Linked DNA regions of Homo sapiens. The protein of the gene in region 3 binds, or shares a complex with, the protein of the main gene of each other region. Each region holds a gene or a part of one and is shown on either strand. Other genes may lie near its edges. The genes, in order: SMIM20, COA1, SURF1 and CMC1.

The links.
Region 1: SURF1 (region 3) and SMIM20 share a complex: the UniProt entries of both Homo sapiens proteins name them as parts of the MITRAC (mitochondrial translation regulation assembly intermediate of cytochrome c oxidase complex) complex.
Region 2: SURF1 (region 3) and COA1 share a complex: the UniProt entries of both Homo sapiens proteins name them as parts of the MITRAC (mitochondrial translation regulation assembly intermediate of cytochrome c oxidase complex) complex.
Region 4: SURF1 (region 3) and CMC1 share a complex: the UniProt entries of both Homo sapiens proteins name them as parts of the MITRAC (mitochondrial translation regulation assembly intermediate of cytochrome c oxidase complex) complex.

Annotation. Positions count from the first base shown.
Region 1 is NC_000004.12:25,917,206-25,924,226, forward strand, and holds part of SMIM20 (small integral membrane protein 20), read left to right. Parts: intron 1-7,021.
Region 2 is NC_000007.14:43,726,512-43,734,493, reverse strand, and holds the start of COA1 (cytochrome c oxidase assembly factor 1 homolog), read left to right. Parts: upstream 1-4,970; 5' UTR 4,971-5,065; exon of another isoform or gene 5,066-5,251; intron 5,252-7,982. UniProt on the Homo sapiens protein: Component of the MITRAC (mitochondrial translation regulation assembly intermediate of cytochrome c oxidase complex) complex, that regulates cytochrome c oxidase assembly.
Region 3 is NC_000009.12:133,353,467-133,361,201, reverse strand, and holds the start of SURF1 (surfeit locus protein 1), read left to right. Parts: upstream 1-4,714; 5' UTR 4,715-4,748; coding exon 4,749-4,802; intron 4,803-4,881; coding exon 4,882-4,933; intron 4,934-6,244; coding exon 6,245-6,378; intron 6,379-6,460; coding exon 6,461-6,543; intron 6,544-7,261; coding exon 7,262-7,453; intron 7,454-7,735. Other genes in the region: SURF2 (surfeit locus protein 2), read right to left, coding at 63-146, 768-937, 1,073-1,252, 3,388-3,491, 4,134-4,288, 4,532-4,609. UniProt on the Homo sapiens protein: Component of the MITRAC (mitochondrial translation regulation assembly intermediate of cytochrome c oxidase complex) complex, that regulates cytochrome c oxidase assembly.
Region 4 is NC_000003.12:28,258,611-28,265,631, forward strand, and holds part of CMC1 (COX assembly mitochondrial protein homolog), read left to right. Parts: intron 1-4,680; coding exon 4,681-4,770; intron 4,771-7,021. UniProt on the Homo sapiens protein: Component of the MITRAC (mitochondrial translation regulation assembly intermediate of cytochrome c oxidase complex) complex, that regulates cytochrome c oxidase assembly.

The DNA.
Region 1 (7,021 bases), on a different chromosome or scaffold from region 3:
GGGGGAGATGAGTGTCTGCATAGCCTACTAGATGAATGACCCTCATCTAAGTTACTTCACTTCTCTGAGCCCTGCCTGTTTCCTCATCTGTAGCAGTGTAGTTCACTGGATTGAATTTACAGGGTTTGGGGTGAATTAAATGGGGTAACAGGTGTGGAAACACCTACTATAGTCTTATATTAGATATTTTATTAAAATGTTTACAAAATAATGAGCCACAAGGGCAGGAATGTGAGACATGGAGATTTTAGCAGGTGGATAGGCCTGGAGCTGGCTGACCTAGCAGTAAACTGGGATGAGGTGTTCATGATCAGGTCATGGAAACCCACTGTGTGGTCGGATCTTCAGCTCATTCCAACACATTCAACTAGCATTTATTTAGCACTCTCTTTTTTAGAAGAAACCTGGATTCTAGCAATCGCTGGGTGCCTGGCACTGTGCTGGGTGTGGACTGCACCTAACCAAACAGCATGGTCAGTCACTTCCTTCCATCATGCTCTTCCTACCCTTGTCCTGTCCACCTCGCTCCACCCATTCCTGGGACTGAGCTGCTTCCATTGTGTCCCACCTACTACCCATTCTCTACCTAGCAGCCACAGTGGTCTTTTCTGGTGACTTTTGGTTGCTGGTTTCTATCTTATTTGCATTTATGGTCAGAGAATGTGGACTATATGATTTTGATTCTCTGACACTGGTCAAGACTTGCTTTGGGGCCTGGTACAGGTCAGTTTTTTTTTTTTGTTTTTTTTTTTTTTGAGACAGAGTCTCGCTCTTTCGCCCAGGCTGGAGTGCAGTGGCGTGATCTCTGCTCACTGCAAGCTCCGCCTCCCGGGTTCACGCCATTCTCCTGCCTCAGCCTCCCAAGTAGCTGGGATTACAGGTGCCCGCCACCACGCCCGGCTAATTTTTTGTATTATCAGTAGAGACGGGGTTTCACCGTGTTAGCCAGGATGGTCTCGACCTCCTGACCTCGTGATCCGCCTGCCTCGGCCTCCCAAAGTGCTGGGATTACAGGCGTGAGCCACCGCGCCTGGCCCAGGTCAGTTTTTGTAAATATTCCCTGTGTGCTTGGAATGGTGGCTGTTCTCTTGTTGGGTACAGAGTTCTGTATCTGTGTATGTTAATTACAGATCAAGCTTCTTAATTCTGTTTGTATTTGGATGTCCTGTGGCCATGTTATTAGGTGCATACAATCTAGAAAATTCTGGATAATTTTTTCTAATTATCATTATATAAGAATTATCTTTATCTCCACTGTTCTTCCCCATCTCTATTTTATCTGATTTTATTGTGCTACCAGATTCCTTTTTTTTTTGAGATGGAGTTTCGCTGTTGATGCCTAGGCTGGAGGCTGGAGTGCAATGGTGTGATCTTAGCTCACTGCAACCTCCGCTTCCCAGGTTCTAGTAATTCTCCTGCCTCAGCCTCCCAAGTAGCTGGGATTACAGGTGCCCACCACCACGCCTGGCTATTTTTTTGTATTTTTTACTAGAGACGGGGTTTCACCATGTTGGCCAGGCTGGTCTCGAACTCTTTGACCTCAGGTGATCTACCTGCCTCAGCCTCCCAAAGTGCTGGGATTACAGGCATGAGCCACTGCTCCCAGCCCAGATTTCTTTTAATATTTTCCTAGCTTATCTGTTTCTCTCCTTATACACGCAGACTTTGTCCTTATGTGAATATCTTTTTTTTTTTTTTTTTTTTTTTTTTGAGACGGAGTCTCGCTCTGTCGCCCAGGCCGGACTGCGGACTGCAGTGGCGCAATCTCGGCTCACTGCAAGCTCCGCTTCCCGGGTTCACGCCATTCTCCTGCCTCAGCCTCCCGAGTAGCTGGGACTACAGGCGCCCGCCACCGCGCCCGGCTAATTTTTTGTATTTTTAGTAGAGACGGGGTTTCACCTTGTTAGCCAGGATGGTCTCGATCTCCTGACCTCATGATCCACCCGCCTCGGCCTCCCAAAGTGCTGGGATTACAGGCGTGAGCCACCGCGCCTGGCCTGTGAATATCTTAAAACCAACATAAACTAGATATTTTAATCCAACCTGATAAGCTCTTTTAACTATTGGATTGGATTAATTTTCATTTATTCTATTTACTGATATATTTGCATTTATTTTTCTCACCTCATTTTGTGTCTTCTTTTTTTTTTCTTGAGACAGTCTTGCTCTGTCACCAGATTGTTAGTGCAGTGGCAAGATCTCGGCTCACTGCAACCTCTGCCTCCTGGATTCAAGCAGTTCTCCTGCCTCAGCCTCTCAAGTAGCTGGGATTACAGGCACATGCCACCACGCCCGGCTAATTTTTTTTTTTTCCTGTATTTTAGTAGAGATGGGCTTTCACCATGTTGCCCAGGCTGGTCTCAAACTCCTGAGCTCAGGCAATCCGGCTGTCTCAGCCTCTCAAAGTGTTAGGATTACAGGCATGAGCCACTGCACCCGGCCTTCTGTTCTATTTCTATGCTTCCTTTTTTTCTTCTTTTCTGCCTCAAGCCTTCTTTATTCTTCTCTTCCCGCTACTAGTTTGAAAGTTTTAAATTCTATTTTTGTTCTTTTATAAAGTTTAGAGTTAGTCAGTGTCTTTACCCTTGAACAATACAAGGTCCTTATAATGCCTTAACCTTTGTCCCATGCACCTGACATAATATATTTGTCCTGCCTGGTGCCTGTGACTCAGCAAATCAGTTAACACCATCACTATTGTATATGGTCACTGACTGTTTATCTTCACCCGCGTTCTTTACTCACCGACGCTGCTTACATTTCACTCCTTTCTAGCTTCAGTTTTCTCCCTTCTGACATACATCTGTTACTACTTCTTTGGTAAGAATTTGTAACTGGGAACCTCTGTTTTTGTCTATTGGAAAATGTATAGAACTGCAGGTCTTCTGCCATGGTTTTTGAAAAGTTTGTCACGCCATCCAAATTTAATCATCTCACTTGCTTAATTACAGTGCTCCAGTAACCCTTTGGTGTCTTGGAAGTCCAGCCAGTGGAGGGTTATTGAAGTATAGTCATGTGCTGTATCATATTTTGGCCCGCGATAGACCATGTATGACAGTGGTCCCATAAGATTATCATGGTGCTGAAAAATTTCTGTCGCCTAGTGATGTCCTGATGATCCTGACCCTGTGTGGGCCTAGGCTAATATATATGTTGTATCTTAGTTTCTCACACAAAAGTTTAAAAAGGAAAAAATAATAATAATTTTAAAATAGAAAGATGTCTATAGAATGAAGATATATAAAGAGAAAATATTTTTGTACAGCTGTAGATGTTTGTGTTTTAAGCTAAATGTTACTATAAGAGTCAAAAAGTTTTAAAAATTTAAAAGTTTATAAAGTAAAAAAGCTAGCTGAGGTTCATTTATTACTGAAGAAAGAAATTTTAAACAATAAATGTAGTGTAGCCTAAGTGTGCAGTGTTTATAGAGTCTGTAGTAGTGTACAGTAATGTCTTAGGCCTTCACATTCACTCACCACTCACTCACCCAGAGCAACTTCCACTCCTGCAGGATTCATTCAAGGTAAATATCCTATTTGGGTACACCATTTGGAAAATCTTTTATACAGTGTTTTTACTGTACCTTTTCAAGTTTAGCTATGTTTAGACACACAAATCTTTACCATGTGTTACAGTTGCCTGCAGTATTCAGTACAGTACCAGGCTGTACAGGTTTGTAGCCTAGGAACAATAGGCTATATCACATAGCCTGGGTGTGTAGTAGGCTACACTGTCTAGGTTTGTGCAAGTACACTCTATGATGGTTGCACAACAATGAAATCACCTAAGGACGCATTTCTCAGAATGTACTCCCACAGATGAGTGACACAGGACTGTATGTTAGTAAGAGCAGTGATCATATTCACTCTTTACAAGCATCACTCTGATTGATTGTATGTTAACTAGAAGGTGGAAAAGTCAAATCTGGGGACAGGAAGGCCAGGTACGGGAAGGCTGTGTTTCCTGTGACCTCAGGGAGACCAGAGTGGTGGCTATGGGAGTGGAGATAAGTGACTGCATTTGGGAGCCATATTTAAGAAGCAAACTGGTGGGCATGGTGGCTCAAACCTGTAATCCCAGCACTTTGGGAAGCTGACGCAGGAGGATCGCTGGAGTCCAGGAGTTCAAACCAGCCTGAGCAACATGGCGCGACCCTGTCTCATTTAAAAAAAAGAAAAGAAGTAAACTCTACAGGGGTCTGTGGCTGATTAGCCACGGGGCAAAGAAGGAGAATGGCACCCAGTGTTCTGGCTCCAGCAGCTGAGGAGATGGAGATGCTGGTCATTAGCTAGAAAACACAAGAAGGAATTGGTTTTAGGGGTGAAAAGACAAGTTAGTTTGCTTTTGGGCATTTGGGTAGCTTTTGAGGCTGAGGTAGCTGATGTGCTCTTTGAGATTTCCCATAGACAATGGAATATACCGATCTGGGGCTGAGACGCCGGATGTGAGCTGCAGCTGGAGATGGGGCATCATCAGCACGTGGCTGGGAATCAGGTCACTGCAGTAGGTAAGGGTTCCCAGGCAGCATTCAGAGATTGTAAGGGGCAAGCTGGCCCGGGGCAGTGTGCTGGGGAACACCAGTGTCAGAAGGGCTGAAGCATAGGGGGTCAGAGGAAGAGAAAGGCCCTCTAAGGAGACTGAGGAGGAGTGGCTAGACAGGTTTTAAACCAGGAGAGGCTGCAGTCACAAGCCCCATAAAGACAGCTCTTCATGAAAAGGGAGTGTGGTCAGCAGGGTTAGGCTGCTTAGAGACAGTAAAAGAGATAAGTGAAAATATGAATTATATTTAACAGAAATAAGTTAGAAGTGATTGGTTATATTGTTAAACATGCTTTCAGTGGTTTGGAAGTAGGCAGAAGGCAGGTTGCAGTGGATTGAAGTGTATTAAGTTGACTATTAATAGTGTATTAAGTTGACTATTTATAGATGTTTAGCTGTATGGAGAGGAGAATGGCAAAGTTTCCAGCAGGTCACAGGGTCTGGGAAGAGTTTTCTTTTAGTTTTGGCTGGAAGAGATGGAGGGCCAAGAAAGTCTTAGACAGAGAAAGCTGCTGGAGAGAGAAGACAGTCCGTAGAGTGGGAGGTGACATGAGATCCTGAGCTCAAGTAGAGGAAAGAGCCTTGGACCAAAGGCAAGGCACCTCTTCCACCAGCTCAGGAGGAAGGATGGTGTGGATGCTGCCATATCTAGGTTTGATGTTGGCAAGTTGTGGGCACTTCCAGGTGATGGCGTCTATTCTCTTTGTGACACAGGAAGTCAGGTCATTTATGAGTAAGAGGCACCAACTCTAGGCCATCCTCTCCTTCCTTGGAGCACTGTCTTCCCTGGGCCTCTCCACCGTGGAAGGTCCTCCTGGGTTTGCTCTTTTGCTCCTGCCTTTCAGCCACTCCTGTTAGCCTTTCTTGTTAGGCCTTCTCTCCTGACCGTCCTTCATACATTTCATTCCCCAGGATCCTGAGACTGTGGGGCAGAAGCCCATCATTCTTGGATGGACAGGGCAGAAGCCTACTCCCTGAGAACTGGGTTACTGGTAAAAGCAAGACTTAGGGCTGGCAACTGGCAAGGCAGTCCATGTAGAGCCAAGTGTCAGATCAGTCCGGGCCCTTCACCTGTGCCAGCATGGATATGGGGACAGGTACGTTCCAGGGTCTCTGCTGGAACAAGCATACAGGCAGCAGAAAAGAAGGGGAAGCCTGCTTAGGTAAAACAAAGCCAAGGAGATCTTCCATGGTTGCAGAGCAGGCAGCCACTATCACCAGACTGCCTTATTGGATTTCATTTTGGCGTTCAGCATGATCTTCAGTTCTTTCGTTAACTTAGCAAGGCTTTCCTAAGTGTTATGTGGAGTACAAGGCAGTTCTGTACATGATACCTCAAGTACTGAAATGAGCGCTGGACAGATGATGGCATCAGTGGGTCAGTGACCCAAAACCAGAAGTCTGGGTACAGTTCTGCTGTACTTCTGGAGGGAGTCCCAGACACTTTTTAGCTTTCACCCTGTTGGCATAGCATGTTTGGTCTGAAGAGGCCACAGTTAGGGAAGAGTACAGATGGCTAATCTGTCTTTGTTTCCTAGAACTAGACAGTGACCCTGAATATGGCCTTTTACAAATAACATGCATTTGAGGCCAGCCTGTGAAATTAGACAGAATAAGATCATTTTCTGTGATCCTTTTCATTTGAAATTTTAATTGGATGTTCAGAAGCATAAAATCATAGGGTTTGACCAGAAGGGGCTTGAGCTCATTTCCGTCCCCTCATTTAGTGACTTGTCCAAGGTTACTCAGCACATTAGTTGCTGGGTGGACACTAGGCCCTAACTCCTTGACCTTGCCTGTACTTAATGCCCTGCCTCATGATGCCTTCAGACAGTGAAGAATGTTCAACAGCCAGCCAAGTGAAAGGCCACAGGGGAGAGCTGTGAGACCTCAGTTCTGCTGCTTCTCAGTCCTGTTGATTTCCGCTGCACCTTGCTGCCCCTGCCCAAAAGGAGGCTATGCCTAGGCAGCACACGGTACTGGAAATCACCTGATGCAGAAAGAATTCTTACCTTGTCAGGGCATTTTCCTTGTGACATGCCAGGTGCTTAGAATATGCTTTTCAGTCCTTTCACCACATAATCGAATGAAATGCGCAGGCAGACTGGGTCTTGTTTTCTAACTGGCATTACACAGTTCCCTGGATTCAACCAGGCTCTGGTGAGGAAACAGACCTGTTGACACTGTTGGGAGGAGTGCAGTGCTTCAAGTGGCTACTTGGTCCCCTTCAGCCAACTGGGTCACACTTGCTCCTGTGGTCATATGGCTTCCCCTCCGTCCCTGGTTCTTTCTTGTCACCACGTCCATTTGGTCCCCTTCAGCCAACTGGGTTGCACTTGCTGCTGCGGTCATATGGCTTCCCCTTGGCCCCTGGTTCACACTCACCACCAGTGAACCTCCAGTTCTGGAATACCCCAGAGGCAGATGGTGTATGTATCTAGGTAACAGCAGCAACAAAAGCAACTGAAAAGCTTTTGAAAAA
Region 2 (7,982 bases), on a different chromosome or scaffold from region 3:
CCAGAAGTTTGTGACCAGCCTAGGAAACATAGCAAGACTTCATCTCAAAAATAAATAAACTGAAAAAAGAACTAGCTCTTTTACTTAATTGATTTCCAAAATTATCTTTATTATTTCATTTTCTATTATTTTTAATTTTCCCCCCAATTTCTTAAAGTGGAAGCTAAAATAATTTAACTTATACTTTTTCTTTTCTTATATTTTTATTCCTTATATTAAGAATGCAATGCTATAATTTTCCTCTCTAAAGCACTACTTTAACTGCATTCAATGCCTTTTGATATATATTTTTATTTTTATTCACTTCAAAATACGCCTGTTTCCTTTACCATTACTTCTTTGACCCATGAGTCAAAATGTATACTTAATTTCAAAAGAAGTGTGTTACTTAATTTCAAAATATTTGTGTTTTCCAGATATCTGTTACTAATTTATAATTATGGTAAGACAAAAAACTTTATACAATTTCAATGTATTTAAGTTTATCAATGTTTATGAACTGGCATAAAAATATTCTACACACTTAAAAGGTGCATTTAGCTATTTATGGAGTGTTCTATAAATATTAAACAGGTCAAGTTGGTTAATAGTGTTGCTCCAGTTTTTTATGCACTTACTGATTTTTTGGTCTAGTTTTTCTATTAATTGCTGAGAGATGAATGTTAAAATCTCCACTACAATTTTCAATTTTTCTTTTCTTTTTTCTTCTTTTTTTTAGATGGAGTCTCACTCTGTCACCCAGGCTGGAGTGCAGTGCTGCAATCTCGGCTCACTGCAACCTCTACCTCCTGGGTTCAAGCAATTCTCCTGCCTCAGCCTCCTGAGTAGCTGGGATTACAGGTGCACGCCATCATGCCAGGCCGATTTTTGTATTTTTAGAAGAGACAGGGTTTCACCCTGTTGGTCAGGCTGGTCTTGAACTCCTGACCTCGCGATCCGTCCACCTTGGCCTCTCAAAGTGCTGGGACTACAGGTGTGAACCACCGCACCCAGCCTACAATTTCCAATTTTTTGAATTGTCCTGTCAGTCTTTGCTTCACATTTATTGAAGCTCTGCTATTAGTTCCAAACAATTTTTTTTATTTTGAGACGGAGTCTCGCTCTGTTGCCCAGGCTGGAGTGCAGTGGCACGATCTCGGCTCACTGCAACCTCTGCCTCCCAGGTTCAAGCGATTCTACTGCCTCAGCCTCCTGAGTAGATGGGATTACAGATGCGCACCACGACGCCTGGCCAATTTTTGTATTTTTAGTAGAGATGGGGTTTCACTATGTTGGTCACACTGGTCTCGAACTCCTGACCTCGTGATCCGCCTGCCTTAGCCTCCCACAGTGCTGGGATTACAGGCGTGAGCCACTGCGCCTGGCCAGATTCATACAAATTTAAGACTGTTATATCTTCTTGATGATCTAACCCAATTATTATAAAATGTCCTTTATTTTTTGCAATCAGCATATTTGAACAGCTACAATTTCCTATAACAAAATTATAGGAGGTGCACATTATTTCCTATAACAAACATGTAGAGCATGTGCTTGGAGTACATGTAAAAGCAAACACAAAAGCAAAAAACAAAAAACATGTAGAGCAAGCATTAACTTTACATTAAACAGGACATATTGTAAGAGATAAATAACTTTTTCAGGGTTAAAAATCAGGATATCACAGGTGAATTTCTTGTAAACAAACTAGGCAGGACTGAATTTCATGCTGGTAGTAAGATAAGCAAGAAAGGACATTCATACCAACCTAGCTAATGTTAATTTTCTCAGTGTCTTTGAGGTAAATACTGTCTAACTTTTACTTATTTTTATGACAGGACATTATGGCACGCTCAATGCTTTGTTTTCTCAAAGCTCTTATGCCAAAATTTTCTTCTTTCTCTCAATAGGTGGATAGTTCCTTAACATGATAAAAGATGTCTACTTCAGTCCTTAAAACCAGCATCATGCTTAATGGGAAAATTCTAAAGATATCTCATTAAAGATAGGAATAAGACATAAAAGTCTACTGTCATTATTATTATTAAATATTTTACTGGAGATACTAGCCAAAACAATTAGATATGAGAAAGTAGAGGTATAAAACTTGGAAAGAAGTAGGTAAAACTATTTCAATGATAAGATTGCAATCTTAGAAATTCTACCAGAATGAACTCCAAACAATAAAGCAACTTAGTAAGGCAGTGGATCACAATATTAATATGCAGGAAATGATACTTTCATGTATACATACAACTACGATGTGTAGTAACCTCATTCAGATTTGATAGTTATAGGATCCTGCTGCTCTTGAGTGAATCTCAAAGCAGCCATTTAACCACTTAACAGTAGCCCTCATACAGCATTATAGTCAGCCCCTCCTCTCTTCACCTCCTACCCCTTCCCTGGCTCCTTAGTTTAAAAGTATCAAAACAGACCCTTTCTTTAAATATATAGAAAAAGAGAGGTAGAATGTGTATTTTGATGGGTAATTTTGGCTATAAGAAACAGAATCCCTGACTTAAGGTGAGTTAATAATAACTAAAATTTATTAAGCACTTAAAATACTTACAATATGACCAGCACTATTTTAACCCATTTAATCTTTATGGCATCTCTATCAGAAAACAGTAAGGATCCCAGCACTCTGGGAGGCCAAGGTGGGTGGATCACTGAGGTCAGGAGTTCAAGAGAAGCCTGGCCAACATGGTGAAACCCCTTCTCTACTAAAAATACAAAAATTAGCCAGGCGTGGCAGTGCATGCCTGTAGTTACAGCTACTTGGGAGGCTGAAGCAGGAGAATTGCTTGAACCCGGGAGGCAGAGGTTGCAGTGAGCTGAGATCATGCCACTGCATTCCTGCCTGGGCGACAGAGTGAGACTCAGTCTCAGAAAAACAGAAAACAAAAACAATAAGGAAACTTATTAGACATTCCTACAAGGCATTCAGATACAGGGTGAGCTCCAGGTTTGGAATGATGTCACCAAGGACATTGTTTTATAACTTGTTCAGTTGTCCTCAGCATTGGTCCATCAGTTTTATTCCTTGTGATGGGCAAGATGGCTACTAATGACAGTGTGGGATAGATGTTTCGACGTCAAGAGGACAGTATATCAGAAACTTTCTCCTGAGCATGAAATAGAGGTCCTTTCCTTCAGTCAGATTGCGCCAACCTGGGTCATATACTCGTTCCTTGATTAGCAACTATTTCCAAAAAAATTCTGTGTGAAGACTGGTTTAATCAGTATCATTTTGATTCTGGGAACAGGGCAGCTATCTGAATAAAATAAGGATTTTGGTACAAAGGAGTTAGAGGAAAATGAATATTGGATAGGTAACATTATTCACTATAGAGTTTTGTTTTTAATGTAAAATTTAGACGACAAAAAAATTCTGTGTGATGACTGGTTTAATCAGTATCATTTTGATTCTGGGAACAGGGCAGCTATCTGAATAAAATAAGGATTTTGGTACAAAGGAGTTAGAGGAAAATGAATATTGGATAGGTAACATTATTCACTATAGAGTTTTGTTTTTAATGTAAAATTTAGACGAAAACTTTAGCAGATTTAAGTCCAGTGATAGAAATGTTAAGTTCTGAGTTTTCAAGCAAATGGTCAGAAAAGCCTATTTAATGTTTTATTACTTACAAAGTAAACATATTTCTCTTTCTGGTACAGAACGGGAGCTAATTGATCTCGGGTTCATTTTCATGAACGTTGTATGAAATGCACATATACCAAACCTCATAAGCTTTTTATTAGTTGATTTATTCTTTGAAATATTAAGCTTGGTGTAAGGTATTATAACCTCAATCTCTTTGAAAATGTAATAAGTCAATAATCAATGTTGCATCAATGAATATTACTCAGTGGATGCCTATTTTATTTCTTCTTTTTCTCTAAGAACCATTTAAATAGTCCTTATGGCCGAGCACTTCACAATCTGATTAGTTTCTATTAATTCTTTGGAAAAGAAACATTCTGGGAAGTCAGAATTCAGCGGTAGGTTGCTTTGATAATGTGCTCATTTAGCTAGTGGATTCCAGAGTGATAGAATGTATGTTTGGCAACCTAATTGTTGTGGAGGAAGAAAAGAACTTCTGTTAGAAGTTTTTAAAAAAGTTTAAAAATTGTTTTTACCTCATCAAAAGTTTGATGTCTTGTGAGTTTTATAGCATGCATAATATATTAATGCCATACATGACACATGTAAATATATATATATTTTTTCTGATAGGGATGTGTGAGCAAGAGTTTAAAGAAGAATGCCCCAGTCTAAAGTTAATTAGTCTTGGAGTGATGGCTTCGCAGAGGAAAGATACTGGATTTCAAGCTTGACATTAAGGTGATAATAGTGGTGACTATGGAATAATCAATATAAAAATAATAACAGCTAACAGTTACTGAGCGCCTACAAACTGCCAGACACTACTCTAAGTGCTTCACATCCTCATAACAAATTTATGAGGTAAATGCTATTATTATCCACCAGCCTTCTGAAATTTTCTTACCCCGTTACTCCCTGGTGTTAACTGGGTACTTAATTTGTCGAATAAAATAAAATTTAGTGCTGCCAAATTTGTCAGCTGAACGGGGCGGCAGGAATTTCAGTGCTAGAGTGGGGGGCCAGACGGCCCGGGGCTTCGTGTCCTTGGAGGCCAGCGGAAGCGCCGCATACCTGTGAGGAGCAACGTGAGCCGGTGGCTTATATTTCCTGGGCTAGTGCTACTGGACTGAATGCATTTGCAATAACCGGACGCAGAAAAAAAAAAAAAAAGCGGGGACCAGGGGAGGCGAAACCCTTCCCGGCGCGAGTCCGAGCGTCTGAGAAGCAGAAGCCACACGTCCCGGCGACCTAAGTTCTGGATCAGCCGGCCGGAGGACCCGTGTTAGCATTTACAATCCGAGGTGAGCTGAAGCCTCCGGTTGTCCCGGTTCGACGCTCTAGCCCTGCGAGCAGCCGACGCCGGAAGTCTCTACTGCTCCCCGCTGGCGCGCAGGACCGCGGGCATTTACCCGTGCTTTCCCAAGCCTGGAAGAACTCGTCATGCTCTTTGTAGCGTGGTGCTTCTGTTGCTCACAGGTTAGTCTCCCGCGGTATAAGAGTCTCCGTCTTCCCCCCAGCAAGAAGCGTTTGTTCCTGCAATTCGGGGGGCCGCCTTTGCGCGCGGGGTGCGCTGCTTCTTGGAGAGTTCCCTCACGGGTCACATCGCGGAGGTTCGCGCCGGCGCCGGGTCGCGGCCTCCCTGCGCAGCTTCTTTGGCACCTGGTAACCTTCAGTGGCTCCGTCCGCTCGGAGTTAGGAGGCTGTGTCGAGCTAACCTTGACCTTGTCCTGCAGTTTTTGCTGACCATCCCCAACAGCACACTGTAAAGAGTTAGGGTCCTCTCGAAGAGTTGGGACTGGGCACTTTTGTTGGTAGTGCTAAATTTCAACACCCTGAGGAGTACGCTGCCCAAATTATTGTAGGAAAGAATTACCTGGTTTAGTGGTTATAATACTTTTTGTCCCCACCACACTTGAATAACAGAAAAACCCTCCCAACAGGGGCTGACTGCAAAAGTGATTTTCTGTGTAGGGGACATTGGATGTATTTATGTATATATCAGTGCCTATCAGTCTGTATGTGTGTTTGGGGGTGGATGCTGTGTAATTTAAAAAAATCTATGGAGATTCTGATAATTTGATAACCTGTTTCTCCGGTCTTCCCCTGATTCCTCCCCATTCTCCCCGGAGGGCTATTGCTTTATTTCTGAGGTGGCTCACGTTTGGATAGAAGTAGCAACTCTCCGCTTACACCTGCACGTTTAAAACGCATATCAGATTGTGTTATTTCTGTCCTCAGAATCTTCCTGGCCTTCCCGTTGCTTTCAGGATAATACACATTTCTTAGCCTAACTTCAAGGGCCTACAGGGTCTTGATTCTGCTGAGTTTTTCAGTCTTTGCTACTTTCATGGAAAACACACCTGCAGGTACACTCATATTATGCTCCCACCATGCCAGTCTACGGTAATTTAATAACTTTAGATATGGCAAAGTTTTATATGGTTTACTCAAGTTTTAATTTTTGTTCTAGCATTTAGCCAAAATCGATTGAATTCATAATATTGCTAGGCACTGTTTTAAAAACGGGATAAAATGAAAACAAAACAAAACACAAAACAAAAGTCTTCAGTCCTTTAAAAAAATAAAACAGCTTCCTGACACATAGTTCACCTACCGTAGAGTTCACCATTTAAAACGTAGCGGTGCCTCACGCCTGTAATCCCAGCACTTTGGGAGGCCGAGGCGGGTGGATCACGAGGTCAGGAGATCAAGACCGTCCTGGCTAACACGGTGAAACCCCGTCTCCACTAAAAATACAAAAAATTAGCCGGGCGTGGTGGCGGGAGCCTGTAGTCCCAGCTACTTGGGAGGCTGAGGCAGGAGGATGGTGTGAACCCGGGAGGTGGAGCTTGCAGTGAGCCGAGATTGCGCCACTGCACTCCAGCCTGGGCGAGAGAGCTAGACTCCATCTCAAAAAAAAAAAAAAAGAAAGAAAACCTAAAAGTAATTAGTACATTAGTACATTCACAAAGTTGTACAACCATCATCATAAAATATGCTGTAATCTTCTTCACCTTCATTAGTTGGTTTAATTTTCTATTTCAGACAGACTCCAATAAGTTATTCTTGTATTCTTTTGTTCATGTTTAATATGCTGCATTCAGTTTGTGAGAGCCATATTGGAACAATTGAACATTTTCATCACTCCAAAAGGAAACCCTGTACTTATTCAGCAGGCTCACCTGACTTCCCCATCCCCACTCCCCATTCTAAGCCCTAAGCAACTATGAATTGACTGACTGTATATTTGACTATTCTGGATTATTCATGTGAGTGAAATCATACAGCATGTGGTCTTTTTCAACTGGCTTCTTTTACTTAACATTCATGTTCATCTGTGTTGTATTTAATAGCATGTGTCAGTACTTTTTTTTATTGCTGGTTAATCTTTTATGGGTATTACCACGATTTATTTTCCATTAGTTAGTGGACGTTTGGATTGTTTCCACCTTTTGGCCATTATGTGTAATGCTGCTGTGAACATTCACCTACAAGTTTTTGTGTGGACATCATGTTTTCATTTCTCTTGCGTATGTGCCTAGGAGTGAAATGGCTGGGTCATATGGTAGCTCTGTTTAACATTTTAAGAAATGGTCAGACTGTTTTCCAAAGCATCAGTGTGCATCTTTTTAACATTCGCACCAGTAGTGTATTAGGGTTTTGATTTCTCACTCCTTGCCAACACTTGTCATTATCTGTCTTTCTGATTCTAGCCATTCCAGTGGGTGTGAAGTGTGTGTCATTGTGTTTTCATTCTTTTTCGTTGACATGTAATAATTGTACATATTTAGGGACTACAGAGTGATATTTTGATAAATGTATACAATGTGTAGTGATCAAATCAGGTAATTAGTATGTCCACCACCTGAAACGTTCATCTTTTCTTTGTGTTGCGACCATTAAAAATCTCCTAACTTTTTGAAAATATTATGGTTTCAAATCGTATTTCCCTGATGGCTAATGATGTTGAGCATCTTTTCAAGTGCTTATTGCCCATTTATTTATCTTCTTTGGAGAAATGTGTACTCAGATCCTCTGCCCATTTTTAAATTAGGTTCTTTTTTGTAATTGAGTTGCAAGAGTTCTTTATATATTCTAGATACAAGTCATTTATCAGATATGTGATAGTCTTTTAGATTATGCTACCGTTCTTTTAAATGAAAAGCACATGAGATTAATTTTTTGTAGCCCTGGAGACCTCCTTATGGGTATGTGGCTGTGGTTTAGAGAGTGATGGTTTTCCAACAACTACGTGGGAGGCCAGGCCCAGGAAAAATGCTGTGAAAGAACCCGTGAGGAGCATTTTAAGACTTGAAAAATGAAGCAAGGAAAAACTTTATAATTTGCCATTCCGTATGGAGTTTTGTCTTTATTGATTTTTAGGAGTTCTTTG
Region 3 (7,735 bases):
TTTGATCAGGAGCGGGGGAAATATCTGAAGGCTTTCTCGAAACTTCACGGCATGTGCTTTTATTAACCTGGCTGTTTACAGGAGCTGAAGCTCTTGGGTTTGCGGTGATGACTCTTGAACTTCTTTTTCAACGAGCCCAACTGCTTCTGTGGGATAAACAAAATTCTGATTACTGAGCCTTTCTGATCCCATGGAGAAGGGGCCCTGGAGTGCAGGGCTCTCCCCACCCACACAGCCTCAGAGGTGTCGGTCAAATACCCACAGAGGCTTTCTCCACCCCCGTTTCCTTAACAGCTGCAGGATTAGACCCCGCTCAGCAGGGCCTCAGAGGAGTACAGTGCAATGCCACACACTCATTAGGACCTTGTCCTCTTTTGGCCTTGGTCCTGCTTATCTACCAAAGGCGGGGAAGTCTCCACTCCTGCCCTGATGGCAAAGGCAAAGGTGGTGGCTAGTAATCAGGTCCCTGTGCCCAGGGGTAAGGACAAACACGCCACAGCTCATAGTCTGAGGTAGGAGGGTGTCCTCACAAACCAGTGGTCTTGACCGTGGTCCACAGAGCCTGGCTTCCACAAGGGGCTGGCTGGGAAGCAATGGTAGGCACTCACGGCCTTCCGCCAGCCAGCGGCCTCGGCTTCTATGGTTCTTGTGTGTTGTTGGCTTGGGATTTCACTTGTGAAAAAGGTTCAGTTTTCTTTTTTTAAACAAATGGAAAACCATCACTAGGGGAAGCCACTGCCACACTAACAGAGGAGGTGACAGCTCACCTTCCCGCGCTTCTGGACCAGCCCTCGGTACACGGTCGTCTCTCTCCTGCCCTCATCAGTGGCCTTCTCTCTTGGGGGCTTTGCCTTCTCATCCTCTTTGTCTGTCAAAAAGTCATCAGTGCCATCCCCATCCTCCGTGCTTCCAAGGTCCTTTCTGGTGAATAGCTCAGCTGGGAGGAACACAGGGATTGGCTGACAGTTATTTTAGGCTGAGTTCGCTGCCACCTTTGCAGGGGAGGCAGCACCACAGTCTGCTCCCTGCTGACAGTAGAGGGTCAGGGAGAAGCAGGGCCTGTTCTGCTTACGTGGGTACAGGTCTGTCATGCTGTCATCACTTGCAGCTCCCCCCTCATCACTGGATGTGGGCTCCCAGAAGGCTTCCCGCGGGCGAGGCCCGTCACCGTCCATCTGGTCCTCCCTCCTCCTCCTCCGGTGCACCAGGCAGGCAGGCACGTACTCCACCCCTTGCTTCTGACATTCTTCATCTGGGAGATAAGCCAGCACGTGCTGGGTACCTCCACACCCCCCACGGTCCTCTGGGCCACAGCTAACTTATGAGGACTGCACTCGGCCAGGGCCCCACAGCCCCACCGCCCTGGACAAAAACCAGAGCAGCTGCTGGGTGCCTCAGCTCTGTTCCTACCAGGTGTGCAGGGAGGGTGGTGGGCCAGGGCTGCAGCCAGGAGGCAAGAAGATGGTAGAGGTCTACGGGGCCTTTACCACTCATCCCCGATCTAGCCAGGCCTAGGAAGCCACGGCTAGGAGGGCACTGACCAGGCCCAAGGCCAACTGTGCCCCAGTGAGCTTGGCATGGCCTCTCAAAGGCAACTCGGGCTGGCAGTGATGCCACCCTCTCCCCAGCAGCCTGAAGTCCTCCCTCAGCACATGGGAGACCCCGTCCCGGAGGGCGGGGCTCAGTGGAGGTTGGCTGCCTGGCCTTTGCTGCCCCTTAGTGGGTGAGAAGGGAGTTGGGACAAGGCTTCCATGGAAAGACCTCACTGGAGTCACCACCGTTGTCCCCTTGTATATTGGAGGGTCTGCTGGGGCTTGCCCTCCAGCCCAGCGCAGCTACCATCATCATCCCTCATGGGCTGCATGAGCCCTGCTGGGCCCTGGCCATTGATGTGGCGGCCCATCTCCAGGGCTGTTTCCCTCCTTGTCTCTGCCACCCACCCCCATGGCCATGCAGCAGCCTTGTCACCACCAGAACGTGAAGGCAGAGCCCCCTTACAGCCACGTTTGGACTTCCCTGGACCACTGCCTTGCAGTGACCTCGGCGCCCCAGTCCCATCTCAGCTCCACAGTCCACCATCATAACCATTCTTCATGGGAACCCCGTGGCCCCCTGCACTTAGAGCCTTCCTGCCCACCCCTGAGCAGCTAACACACTGGCTGGAAAAAGTCCAAGCCTCAGGCTGGCAGCCCTTGTGCCTGCAAGGCCTCTGCAAGGTGCCCGCCTTCTACTTGAGAAACCCTGGTCCTGCCTTCTCAATCCACACTCATGCTTCGGGAGGGCTGGACTGCCTCTCCGCACTCATCAGAAGCCCGTAGACGCATCTTCCCATCCGCAAACCAACCTGAATCTGTCCGCTCCAGCCTCTGTCCATTTCCCTCCTTAGCTGGACTCCAGAAAGGCTTTCTGGTGACCCAGCACCTGCCTAAGGCCGGACACTGCCCTCATGGGCTGCAGCCTACGCTCCACTCTAGCCAGGTGTCCCTGCCAAGCTTCAGGTGCCTCACCAAGGTTGCCAGGGGCCTCTGTGTTATCAAATCTATCATTTTTCTGTCCTCATCTTCCCTTCAGTACCACGGGAGGACTTCCAGCCTCTTCCTGGGGCTCAGGACCAGGCCTCTCTCCCTTCTCTAAACTCTCGCCGGGTGCTCACCCAGATCCACGGTGCAACCATCTCCTTCATCCAGCACGGGTGTCCCTGTTTCAAAAGCCCGATACTTCCCTAATACACACCTTTCCTAATACAGCTCAAGCTTAAAACCTTCAAAGGGACTCTGAATTCTCCCCCCAAAACCCACCGTCTTTTCCTGGATGACCGCAGTCAAGGAGTCCTCCCTTCTCAACCATGCACACTGTCCATGCAGCCCCCACCCAACCCTCTCCACACACCCACTGCAGTGCTCCTGGCCTGGTCTCTGGGTCATCCGGGCTGTGCACACTAGCCCAGCCAGTCCTTTGGAGCCTACCTCAGCCAACACATTTTTGCCTCAGACTTCCATGGACCCTGGCTTCTCCCTGGGGTGCTGTTCCCCCGACCCCACTGCCACCACATCCCTCCAGCCTCAGCCTCGAGCGAATCCCTCAGCGAGTCTCCCCAGCCCTCCTGTCTCCGCAAGCCCACCCCACATCCCTCGCCCAGTTTCTTTCACACCTCGCATTGCCACGCACACTCACTCACTCCCGAGCCTGCTTCTGGCTCTGTGCCTGCCTGCACTAAAAGCTGTGGGGTCAGGGGCCATCATCCCTCTCTTCACTGTGCCAAAAAACAGGCCTGATGCATCAACACGGATCGCTGAAGGACGACCTGCCTTCAAGCACGCTCCATCTGGGGCAAGGCGGGCATGCACTCAGATGGCGATGCACTGATGGGGGTCCACTGGGACTTACATTTACACAGAGCTCGCTGGTACCGCCGGCCCTGGGTGTGCCTCAGCACGTGTTCTGGGCACTTGTTGATGTGCCGCAGGGTGAGTTTGCAGAACAACTGGTGCCTACAGAGCAGAGAGACCAAATTTGTAGGGACAGTTCACAGCAAGGATTCAGACTGGTGGCTGTGTCTTGGACTCATCCCTGGACAGTCTACCATGCGGCTTGGACATCGGGCTTTTAAAGGCTCCCGGAGCAATTCCACTCTGAAGCTGGGTGGGGAACCGTCTGACCCAGGCCGACTGCAGCCTCTTAATGTTTACCGGAAAAGCACGCATGGCAGCCTCACTGACTGCTCCAGGATGAGTTCATGCAAGAGGATGGCTCCACCTGGAGCAAGGGCTCAATGAATGGAAACATCCTATCTCTGTTTTGACGATTATTACAAAGCCTAGCTCCCAGCTAAATCAAAGACCCCTTCTGGGGTTAAGGGAAGAACCCAACGCTGTTCACAACCTCAGGTGACAAATCACAAGCCTCTACTCATCTGGGAAGCAGCCACACCCCACAGGACAAACCTCAGGTGAGCAAACGAGCTCACCAAGAGGCCTCGCCGCTGGGACCGCAGGTGATTCCAGCACCCGGGCGCCCACCTGGGTCCCAGGGCTCCCAACTCTGAAAGAGTAGGGGCTGCAGCACTGGCGGAGTCCAGCGGAGGGGCTGTCCTAATTGCCCTGGGCCTCCCCGCGCCGCCGCGGACCACCTACGGGTTCTTGGTGCTGGGCACGATGTGCGGCTCGAACTCTGCATAGTCGAAGGCCGGGGAGGCGCGGACCAGCCGCTGGTACTTTTTGCCGCGGGTGTAGACCTGGAGCTCCGGCAGGCGGCAGGGCAGCTCGTGACCTGTCAGGATGCACCTCACCTGCGGACGCGTGGGCGGGCAGGACGTCAGGAGGGCCAGGGCTCCGCTCCCTGGTGCCCCCTCCTGCCGCGCCCCCTTCCCTCTCCTCCCCTGATCCCGCCGCGCCCTCTCCCCTGCCCTCCCCTCTCTCCTGCTCTCCCCTCTCCCCTCTCCCCTGCCCTCTCCTCTCCCCTGCCCTCCCCTCAGCCCCTCATCCCAACTGCGCCCTTCTCCGCCACTCCGTTCCCCTCCCGCGCTGCGAACCTTGCGGGCGTCCGTCTGGAGCCGCAGGCTCGGGTGCTCCCGCAGAAACGCCCGCACGTCGCCCGGCAACTCGCTCATGGCCGACGCGCCCGCGGAGCAGCCCGGCGGAAGCCGCTCGCAGAACCTGGAGCCGGGGGCGGGGCTCTGGGCGGGACTCAGCGGCGCCCCGGATGCAGATGCTTCCTGCGTCCCGGAAGCGCCCGCGGGGCCGGGTGCGATGGCGGCGGTGGCTGCGTTGCAGCTGGGGCTGCGGGCGGCGGGGCTGGGACGGGTGAGCGCCGGGTGCGGGGTGCGGGGTGCGGGGCGCGGGGAGGGGTCCCGGAGCTCAGCCCGCCCGTCCGTGTCCGCAGGCCCCGGCCAGCGCCGCCTGGAGGAGCGTCCTCAGGGTCTCCCCGCGCCCAGGTGAGGGCTGCAGGCCGGGCTGTGATCCAGGCGCCTGGGCAGAGCCACCTGCTGTCTGCCCTGCACTTTGAAGGGTTGTCGTGGGGATTGAAATGAACCAACTGCCGGCTGAGCGGAGGCTCCCTGGGAGTGACAAGTTCCGTATTAAAATGCTTTCAGTGGAATTGTGGTCGTGTGCCGGGCATGTAGCGAGCGCTTTGTCCTCACAACGCGAGAGGTAGCTCCTTGGTCGTTCCCCTGTTACAGAGAAGGCTCGAGAGTTACTTCCGAACGTCCCATCCAGCTAATGGGTGGCCAGCCCAGGCTGAAAGCCCAGGGCTCTGAAAGTAAAGCGTATCTAACCACCGCGGCTTACGTGTTCCTCTCAGTGTGCAGCACAGGGCTGTTTTGCCGTGTGTAGAGTGCTGTGCAAGCCTGCCCCAGGCCTGCCTTTTTATAAAAAAAAAAAAAAAAATAGTATCCGCAAGGCCCCTGGTGCTTTTCAGCGGATGGAACTCATCCTCTGAGAGCTTAAAGGCACTTTCTGTGTACATTCTTCCCTCTTTACATTTACGATGAGTTGTAAAAATGGAAAGCTGTTAAGAGAGCTCTGTGAGCCATTACTGAATTGATATATTTTTCTACATAACACAACAACCACTAGTGCCTGACTAAGCTACTTAGTAACTGTAGCTGCTTATTTTTTATTTTTTGAGACAGTTTCGCTCTTGTTGCCCAGGCTGGAGTGCAGTGGCGCAATCTCGGCTTACAGCAACCACCTCCTCCCAGGTTCAAGCGATTCTCCTGCCTCAGCCTCCCGAGTAGCTGGGATTACAGAAGCACCATCGTGCTCAGCTAATTTTTGCATTTTTTTGTAGAGATGGGGTTTCTGCATGTTGGTCAGGCTGGTCTCGAACTCCTGATCTCGTGATCCGCCCGCCTTGGCCTCCCAAAGTGCTGGGATTACAGGCGTGAGCCACCGTGCCCGGCCAACTGTAGCTGCTTATTAAATGCATTTTGAATGGATGAATGGTGCATCTTAGTGCAGTGGAATACATCTAGATTCTTGAGTAAAAAGGCATGAGTTACTCAGGGTCGTGGTTGGTGGTCAAACCGGCACTGAGCCCTAGATCCCACTTACTCACTTGGCAGACGTACTGTGTGTGCCTTGTTCTGGGCACCGGGTTAGGAGCTGGGCTGGATACAGGTGCTGCTAGTTGGCTCTAGGCAGCAGGTTTTGATTGGCAGTACTGGAGTCTGTCTTGGAACGGGCTGCTCCAGGTCTGTGTTCGAGGGCTTCTGGCTCCATGTCAGTGTTGTGAAACTCTCCAGGGGTGGCCTGGAGGCCAAGCAGATGTGGCAGTTCTGCAGCAGAAGCATCTGCCACAAAAGCGGAAGATGACTCCTTTCTTCAGTGGGTCCTGCTCCTCATCCCTGTGACTGCCTTTGGCTTGGGGACATGGCAGGTAAAGACCGGCATCTGGTGTGCGTAACTCTGGGCCCTTGACCTTGCTGCCATCTGCTTGGCCTTATGCTCTGTCACTGTAGGTCCAGCGTCGGAAGTGGAAGCTGAACCTGATTGCAGAGTTGGAGTCCAGAGTTCTGGCTGAGCCTGTCCCTCTGCCAGCCGAGTGAGTGCATGGCTGCCCCCCTAGGGCCTGTTTTACTTGAGTTCAACAGCAGAGCCCTGGCTTCTGCTGGCCAGCTTGCCCCTTTTGGTGGGACTTTTAGTCACTGCCTTGACCTCAGGTGGGAGCTCTCATTATCAGTCATCTGTTGGGCTTGCTGTTGACACCTGACTGCCCTTGTGAAGCTACCTGAGACCGCCTCCTGACATATGGAGGAAAGTCTTATTTTGAGTCCTGGGTGTCACCCTTTTTTCAGGTATAGTAAACTTATCCTCCACAGGGCCCAAGGCCCTGTGGCTGAGGACAGATAATGTAGGTCTCACCGTGAGGGTGGTCGTTTGAAAAAGTGCCCTGAATGATTTGTCTGCTCTCTCCCTAGAATATGCCCTACAGAGATAGGTATATTCAGCCACATTTTCCATTCAGGGTAGCAAACAGTATGCCAGATTTGGCTTGCAGATGGGGTTTTGGCCCACATATTTTTTAAAATTTCACATAAAATATTCATTGAGGAGTCCAGATTTTTAGCCTCTCTTGTAAAGTTGGACTCTGGCAGTGCAGATCCACATTCCCACATGGCATCAAAGTTCCCCTTTGAAGAGCACGCCCTTTGCCTTTCTCCTTCACTTGTCTGGCCCTGGTGGGCTGTGTAGTCTGCCACCCTCAGGGGATTCGTTTTCCAGCCAAACCTTGCTCGGCCACTGTTCTTATCTCCATGCAGCCCAATGGAACTGAAAAATCTGGAGTATAGGCCAGTGAAGGTCAGGGGGTGCTTTGACCATTCCAAGGAGCTGTATATGATGCCCCGGACCATGGTGGACCCTGTCCGGGAGGCCCGGGAGGGCGGCCTCATCTCCTCCTCAACTCAGAGTGGGGCCTATGTGGTCACTCCCTTCCACTGCACCGACCTGGGGTGAGTAGGACATGTGGGAGCTGGCTGTCCTGGCAGAGGCAGTCAGGGTATACTAATTTACATCACTATTTCCTTCACAATCCCCAACCTTGGTAGGACCCTGGGGAACCCAAGATACCCAGGAGATTCAATTCCTTGCATAGTTTAAGTCCCTAATTGTGACATTGACTTAATCTTCTCAGCCAGCTCATTTATGACTGGATAATTTCTGTATGTTGACCTCTGAAGGGAAAGGAGGGATTCGTGAAACAGGGGCCCTGCCTCTGGAGAACTGTCTAGTTG
Region 4 (7,021 bases), on a different chromosome or scaffold from region 3:
TGGATTTTTTTTTTTTTTTTTTTTTTTGAGATGGAATCTCGCACTGTCACCCAGGCTGGAGTTCAGTGGTGAGATCTCAGCTCACTGCAAGCTCTGCCTCCCGGGTTCATGCCATTCTCCTGCCTCAGCCTCCGGAGTAGCTGGGACTACAGGCACCCGCCACCAAGTCCGGGTCATTTTTTATATTTTTTTTTAGTAGAGACAGGGTTTCACTGTGTTAGCCAGGATGGTCTCGATTTCCTGACCTCGTGATCCGCCCGCCTCGGCCTCCCAAAGTGCTGGGATTACAGGCGTGAGCCACTGTGCCTGGCCTTGTGGATTCTTTTGTTCTCTTTTGTTACATTACTCTTTTTGGCTACCCAAATTATGCCAGCACTACGTCGTCTTGACTTCTGTAGTTTTGTAGTATGACTTGTAATCGGGTAGTTGCTGCATAGCATCTAAATTTGTTCTTCTGTTTTAGTGTTGTTTTGGCTATTCTATGTCCTTTGTGCTTCCTTGTATGTTTTTTCACTTTTTTATTATAACTTTATTTTTTAATAATATAATAATAATAATAGGAAACTACAAAATCATGCAGTTTCCATGTACCTGCCTTCTTCCCTTTCCCTAATGATGCTATCTTACATAACCATGATATGTATATTCTCAGTGGGTGTGATAACTGCCTTCAAAAGGATAACAATTGACATTGGTGGAGACAGAAATATTACTCTCTTAATGTATAAAACAATGTTACACCCGCAGTGCATAAACATATATGCTATATCTGTGATATTAACATTTCATAGGGGTACATTAGGAAAAAATGTCAAAAAAGGGTCCTTTTAGGGCAAAAATTAAAAAAGGTTGGGACAGGCTCCTATAATTAAATGTGGACAAGGAAACTGGGAATTGGCAATGGTATAATATTGTTGATTCAGGTACTAATCTTAGTCGAATTTCACCACTTTTTACATGCATTTTTTTTGTTGTTCTGTAATTATATGACATCTGCATCATGAGGATTTTCTCCTGTGATTGTTTCTAGAAGTTTTTTTCTTTAACTTTTTATTTTGAAATATAGACTCACATAAAATTGTGAAAAATGCTATATAGTCTTGAGTGTCCATCTCATAGCTTTCCCCAGTGGTGACATCTTATATATCTGTAGTACAATATCAAAACCAGGAAACTGAAGTTGATACAATACTGTTAACTAGATTATAGATCTTTTCAGTTTTCACCAGTTTTTACGTGTACTCATATGTGTGTGTGTATAATTCTGTGTAATTTTATACCATGTTTCTTTTTTTATAGGGAAAGCGTTCAGAGTTTTAGTATTAAGTATGATGTAAGCTAGAAGATTTTTTGTAGATGCCCTTCATTAAAGAAGTTCTCTTCTGTTCCACGTATACTGATTTTGTTTTTTATGAATGCATGTAGAATTTTGTCCAATTTTTTTTGGCATCGATATGATTATATGGTTTTCCTTTTTTGGACTGTTAATATATCTCATGGATTACATGGTTTGAATTTTGAATGGTGAACCACCCTTGCCTCCCTGGAATAAGTCCAACATTTTTGTTATGTGTCTTTCTTTTTATGTATTGCTGAGTTTGATTTGTTAATATTTTGTTGAGGATTTTTGCATCTGTGTTCATGAGGCATACTGGTGTGTAGATTTGGTGTGTGTGTGTATGTGTTTTGTAAATACCGTTCTTGCTTTTAGTATCAAGGTATCTGTGCCTTCTTGAGTGAGCTTTGGTTGGTTTGTAGTTTTTTTAAAGGAATTTATTCATTTCATTCTAGTTGTCAAGTTCATTGGCCTAAATTTGTTCATAATATTCCCTTATTATTTAAAAATATTTATCATTTCTGATGTTTGAAATTTGTGACCTTAGTCTGGCTAGTGGTTTATAAATTTTATTGATCTTATCCTCTCGAACCAGCTTTAATTTCATTGTTTTTTTTTTCTTTTATTTGTGTGGTATTCTTTATTTCATTGATTTATATTTTGATATTTATCTTTTCCTCTTTTGCTTGCTTTGTGTTTATTTTACCCTTTTTCTGGTTTCTCAAGGTAGAAACTTAAGTTAATACAAGACCTTTTTTCTTTTTCTAGATAGGTTTTTAGTGCTACAAATTTCCTGCCAAGTACTGTTTTAGCTGCATCACATAAATTTTGATATATTGTGTTTTTATTTTCATTCATATCAAAATACTTTCGCATTTCCTTTTTGGCATTTTCTTAGATCCATGGGTTATTTAAAAGTGCGTTATTTAGCTTACAAATATTTGGCGATTATCCGGAGATCTGTTATTGGTTGCTAATTTAATTACATTGGTGTCAGGGAACATAGTTTGTAGGGCTTGAAATTCCTTCAGATTTATTGAGATTTGTTTTATAGCCAGATTGTGGTTTATCTTAGTAGATGTTCTGCTGTTATTAGGTAGAGTATTCTATAAATGTTAGTTAGGTCAAGTTAGTTGATAATGTTGTTCAAGTACTTCACAGTTTTAACGAACTTAAATATATGTTTTTGTAATATGACATATATTTTACATTTGTATATCATGCGTTCAGTTTTTTTTTTTCTATCAGAGCATATTCTCTGTTACATCTTGTGAGAGATTTTATTTTACAAAGAAGGTTACAAAATTATCTCCCATTCTTCATGCTTTTCTGTAGTGTGGTTTTGTTACCAAGAATAGAATCTGATTTCCTTCCACCTGAGTGTGGGCTATCCTTAATGACTTGAAATCAGTATAGTGTAGCATGAACGAATGGTGTTGCATGGCTCCAGGTAGAGAGGCCATTGGTAGATGTTCTGGTTTACAGTCCTAACTGAGCACTTCTTTTGGCCATTCCAGGCCAGATGTCAGATACATATATGAAAAAAGAAGTAATTTTGGAAGTAAATCCTCCAGCCCCAGCTTTTGTAGCTGGTGGGACTCTAGAGCAGGTGTTCAATTTGCCATTTTAGTCCAATTTTGGAAGTTGTGTTTAAAATGCACACCAGAGCCACCGGAACTTTGAGTCTTCCCAGATCAGGCCCCTCTGACCCATAGTTTATTGTTTATTGTTTTACATCACTAAATTTGATGAGTAGTTGTTGCACATAGTAGTCATTCCCCAGTGTACGAAGGGGATTGGTTTCAGGAGCCCCATATTTACCAAAACCTGTGCATTCTCAAGTCCCACCATGGGCCCCTCAGAACCCATGTGTATGAAAAGTTGGCCTGAAAAGTTGGTATACCATATAGGTTCGCATCTCCAAAATATTGTATTTTCAATCTGCATTTGGTTGGATAATATCTGAGTATTAAGTGGACCCCCACAGTTCAAACCCGTGTCGTTCAAGGATCAACTGTAATAAGGAGATTACTTCTTTTTCTGTAGGGTTTGAAGGTGGTAAGCATTTTAGTTCCTATATATCTGAATGTCCTTAACCTCACTCATAATTGGTAGTTTAGAGACTCTAGAATTCTTTGTAATTCTTTATAATTCTCTCTCAGAACTTTGAAGTTATTTCTCCATTGTCTTGTTGCATCATGTCTTGCCAGTGAGCCATGATGTAAATCTGATTCTCATTCCTTTATGTAGGCAGTGTTTATTCCCTTTTGAAGCTTTTAGGATTTTGGGGTTTCAGACATTTCATCAGAGTGCATTTAGGTAATCCATGGTCCATTGCTGTCTGAGGACTCAGGTCTTTGTATTTGCCTCAGTATATTTATTATACTTAATAATAATCTAAAATCTTCTTTCCTATATTCTTTTAATGGGAAACTTTCTGGTCTTTTGGGGATAAATACCTATATATACTTTTTTCACCCGTGGCCTGAAGGCAGCAGAGGAGGTGACCATTTGGCTCCTACTGAGTCACTTTAATTAATAACTGTTTAGTTTCCTCCAGGGAAGTTTTCTTGCTTTCCATATTTGCTGCTTCAGAGCATGGAGCAGCACCCACTTTTGGCATGCGTGTTTTTCCTGGATACTCTATAGTAATATGATTACCTCATTTAATCTGATCTAATCTGCCTTTTTTTCTTTCAGAGATTCCTCATCTTTTTTGGTTCACTGAAGGCACTTATCCTTTGTTTATTTTTCAGGACTCTCTTAGCATTTAAGGAGCAGGTGGGACTCTAGAGCAGGTGTTCAATTTGCCATTTTAGTCCAGTTGTGGAAGTTGTGTTTAAAATGCAGAGAAATCACACACGCTTTGTTTTCATATGGACTTGTAGTTCCACCTTTTCTTCTGTTAGTTCTTTTTTAGGCTACTCTTACTACTAGGTAGAAAAACTACTTGTGTGTCTCTTAATCTTGTATCTCTTCATCTATTCTTGGATCTCAGTATCGGTGAAAATCCTCTTTTGTGGATTATATTAATAAGGGAATGATTTAGATGCCAACTTTGACAAGATTGCATGGAATATGTTATAAAGTAAAGATGTTGTAGTATAGTTTGCAGAAATTTTAAGAAACATGTTGCTTGTATTCCTCACATTTTTGTTGTTGTATATAAAAAAACATTGCAAATAGGATGAGTTTTAATGACTAAAATAATCACAATTTCATAAGGTTGTAAGTTTTGAGTATATTTGCATAGGCTTTTATTTTAAGTAAACCAGAGTCTTATTTTTCCTTTAATCTGGTGATTTGCTTGAGACTTTATTAAAGAAAGATCTTTTTTTTTTCAGACCAGCATCTCAGACATGTCGAAAAAGATGTTTTGATCCCTAAAATAATGAGAGAAAAGGCCAAAGAGAGGTGTTCTGAACAAGTTCAAGGTAACATTCAAATATTCATGTAAAGATCAAATTTATTTTTAATAATATGATCTGAATTTAATCCTTAGCCCCAGAATCAAGTAGTCAATGAATTAATATGTATGAATTGCTTCTCACCCTTTCGCTGAAATACCAGTATTTCAGCTTTCAGAACTTCCAGTGATGTTCAATTCATTTACAGTTTAAAAATATTTCCCTAAATTACTAGTAAAAAACATTTTTTGTTTTTTTACCCTCAGAGGTACAGTTATATACATGGAAAAACTTGGTATGAGTAATTTGGAGAAACAAGTTACTCTTACGATTTTTATAGGGGAGGAAGAAACATCAAATCTAACATATACCTGTTTCCCATCTGTCACCATATTCGCATACATATATATATTCTAAGGTGATTTTCTTTGGTGTCATTGTCTATTACTGAATTGTTAATAGAATCCTGATAGGACTTACAGTGAGTCTGGGGTTTTTGTTTTGTTTTATGTTTCTAAGTGGAAGATATTTATGTAAATACATACACTAGACAGCTACAAGTGTATGTTTTCTTTGGAAAATGTTTTAACATGAAATACTCCTATAGATCTAGAGACATCAGTGATTAATATGTAATATTCTAGTGAAACATGTAAAGAAAGCAGTGAAAGGTGAATAGTGAGGCCATAATACATTTGTAAATGATGAGTTATTAGAAAAGCACATGGCAATATTACTTTAGAAATATCTTTAAAAAATTCTGTCTCTTGGAAGGGCCATCAAAAAGAAGTAATAAACTTTTATGGGCATAGGCTATTTTCCTGGCTTTACTTCTTCACTTTCCCTGTGGTCATCTTTATTGAGGGACCACAATAATTTTTAGTGAGGATGATGGGCTGCACTTCCACTGCAAGCTTCACTACAGGGGAGCAGGGCTGTGTCAACTCTAATTTCAGGACTGGGTCAATAACATTTGGATACTAGGAACGCTTTTGTTCCCTTCCCTGTCCTCTGCCCTTAGAGAGGACCTTTGCAATTGATGAATGGAGGCAATAAAATAAAGAGTAGTTCTTTGGAATCAACAATGTGTGATGGTAATTTTTGTTTCTTCAATAACTTATTATGACCTATTCCATTTTAAAACTCATATAAATAACCATCCAATGGTTTTACTCTTGATTCTTGTGAGTTAGTTTAATCAGAGTACCTTTCTTTAACACCTACCCCCAGATGTCTTGAGACGTCAACCTATTGACACCTGCAGGTAGTGCATGTATGGCATTGGTAGGTGTCATGTTTATGGTCACAAGAGGTACATCCTGCACATTCCTCATACAACTTAAAAAATATATATCCTGATTCAGGTGAGGGGAGATAAAACTTAAAAACCCTATAATAAAGTTGTAGGGCTTTTTACTGCTAGGAAAATTTACTTATTACTGATATATCAGTCTAAAGTTACACATATAAGTTGTATGTGTGCTGTCATGTAGCATATTGTCTTTATACCTAGAATGAAAGAAAGCTAGCTAACTCAATTACAGATTTAATTTTTACTGACATAATTCCAAGGAAAATGCAGAATGATTGTATGACTTTGAGTTTTATTTTTGGTTTTTGAAATGAAAGCGTAGAGTATAACTTTAAAATATTTATTTGTGTTACAAAACTAGTGTTTTATAATGGTACAGAAAATAAAGTGTTTAATTTTCACTTCATCAAAAGTTAAGTTGTTTAGGATGTTGACGTAGTTAAGTTTTTGCTGTTTTAATATACTTACGGTTTCTGAAGACTGAAAGCATCTTAAAATCTGTGACTCATTTGGATTATTTAAATGTATTCATCTATATTAGAATGTAATAATATAATTTGAATATCTTATAGATAATTATGTATTGATTTTTTAGGCCATGTGATTCAAAACAATATTTTAGAATCTAAAATTGATAAGAGAATAAGAAGTCTTTAGTATTTTCTAACCATATAAATTAGGAAATCATATACATTAGAATTATTCAAGCAGCAGAAGAAAACTTCATTTAAACTCAACAGTTATACATAATTTAGAATCGGGACATTTCCATTGTAGTTTATTTACTGTTTATAGCTTTTGCTTTATTAAATAATTATAGGATTTTATATAAAAGCATTATATATGCCAATTGTATGGTTCTTAGATAAAAGATACAGGAATTTTAATAAGTGATCTGACTTTCTGCTAAATGCCTAAAACATGATTATGTAGGAAAGCTTTTCCGTTAGATTTTTTTTTTAATGT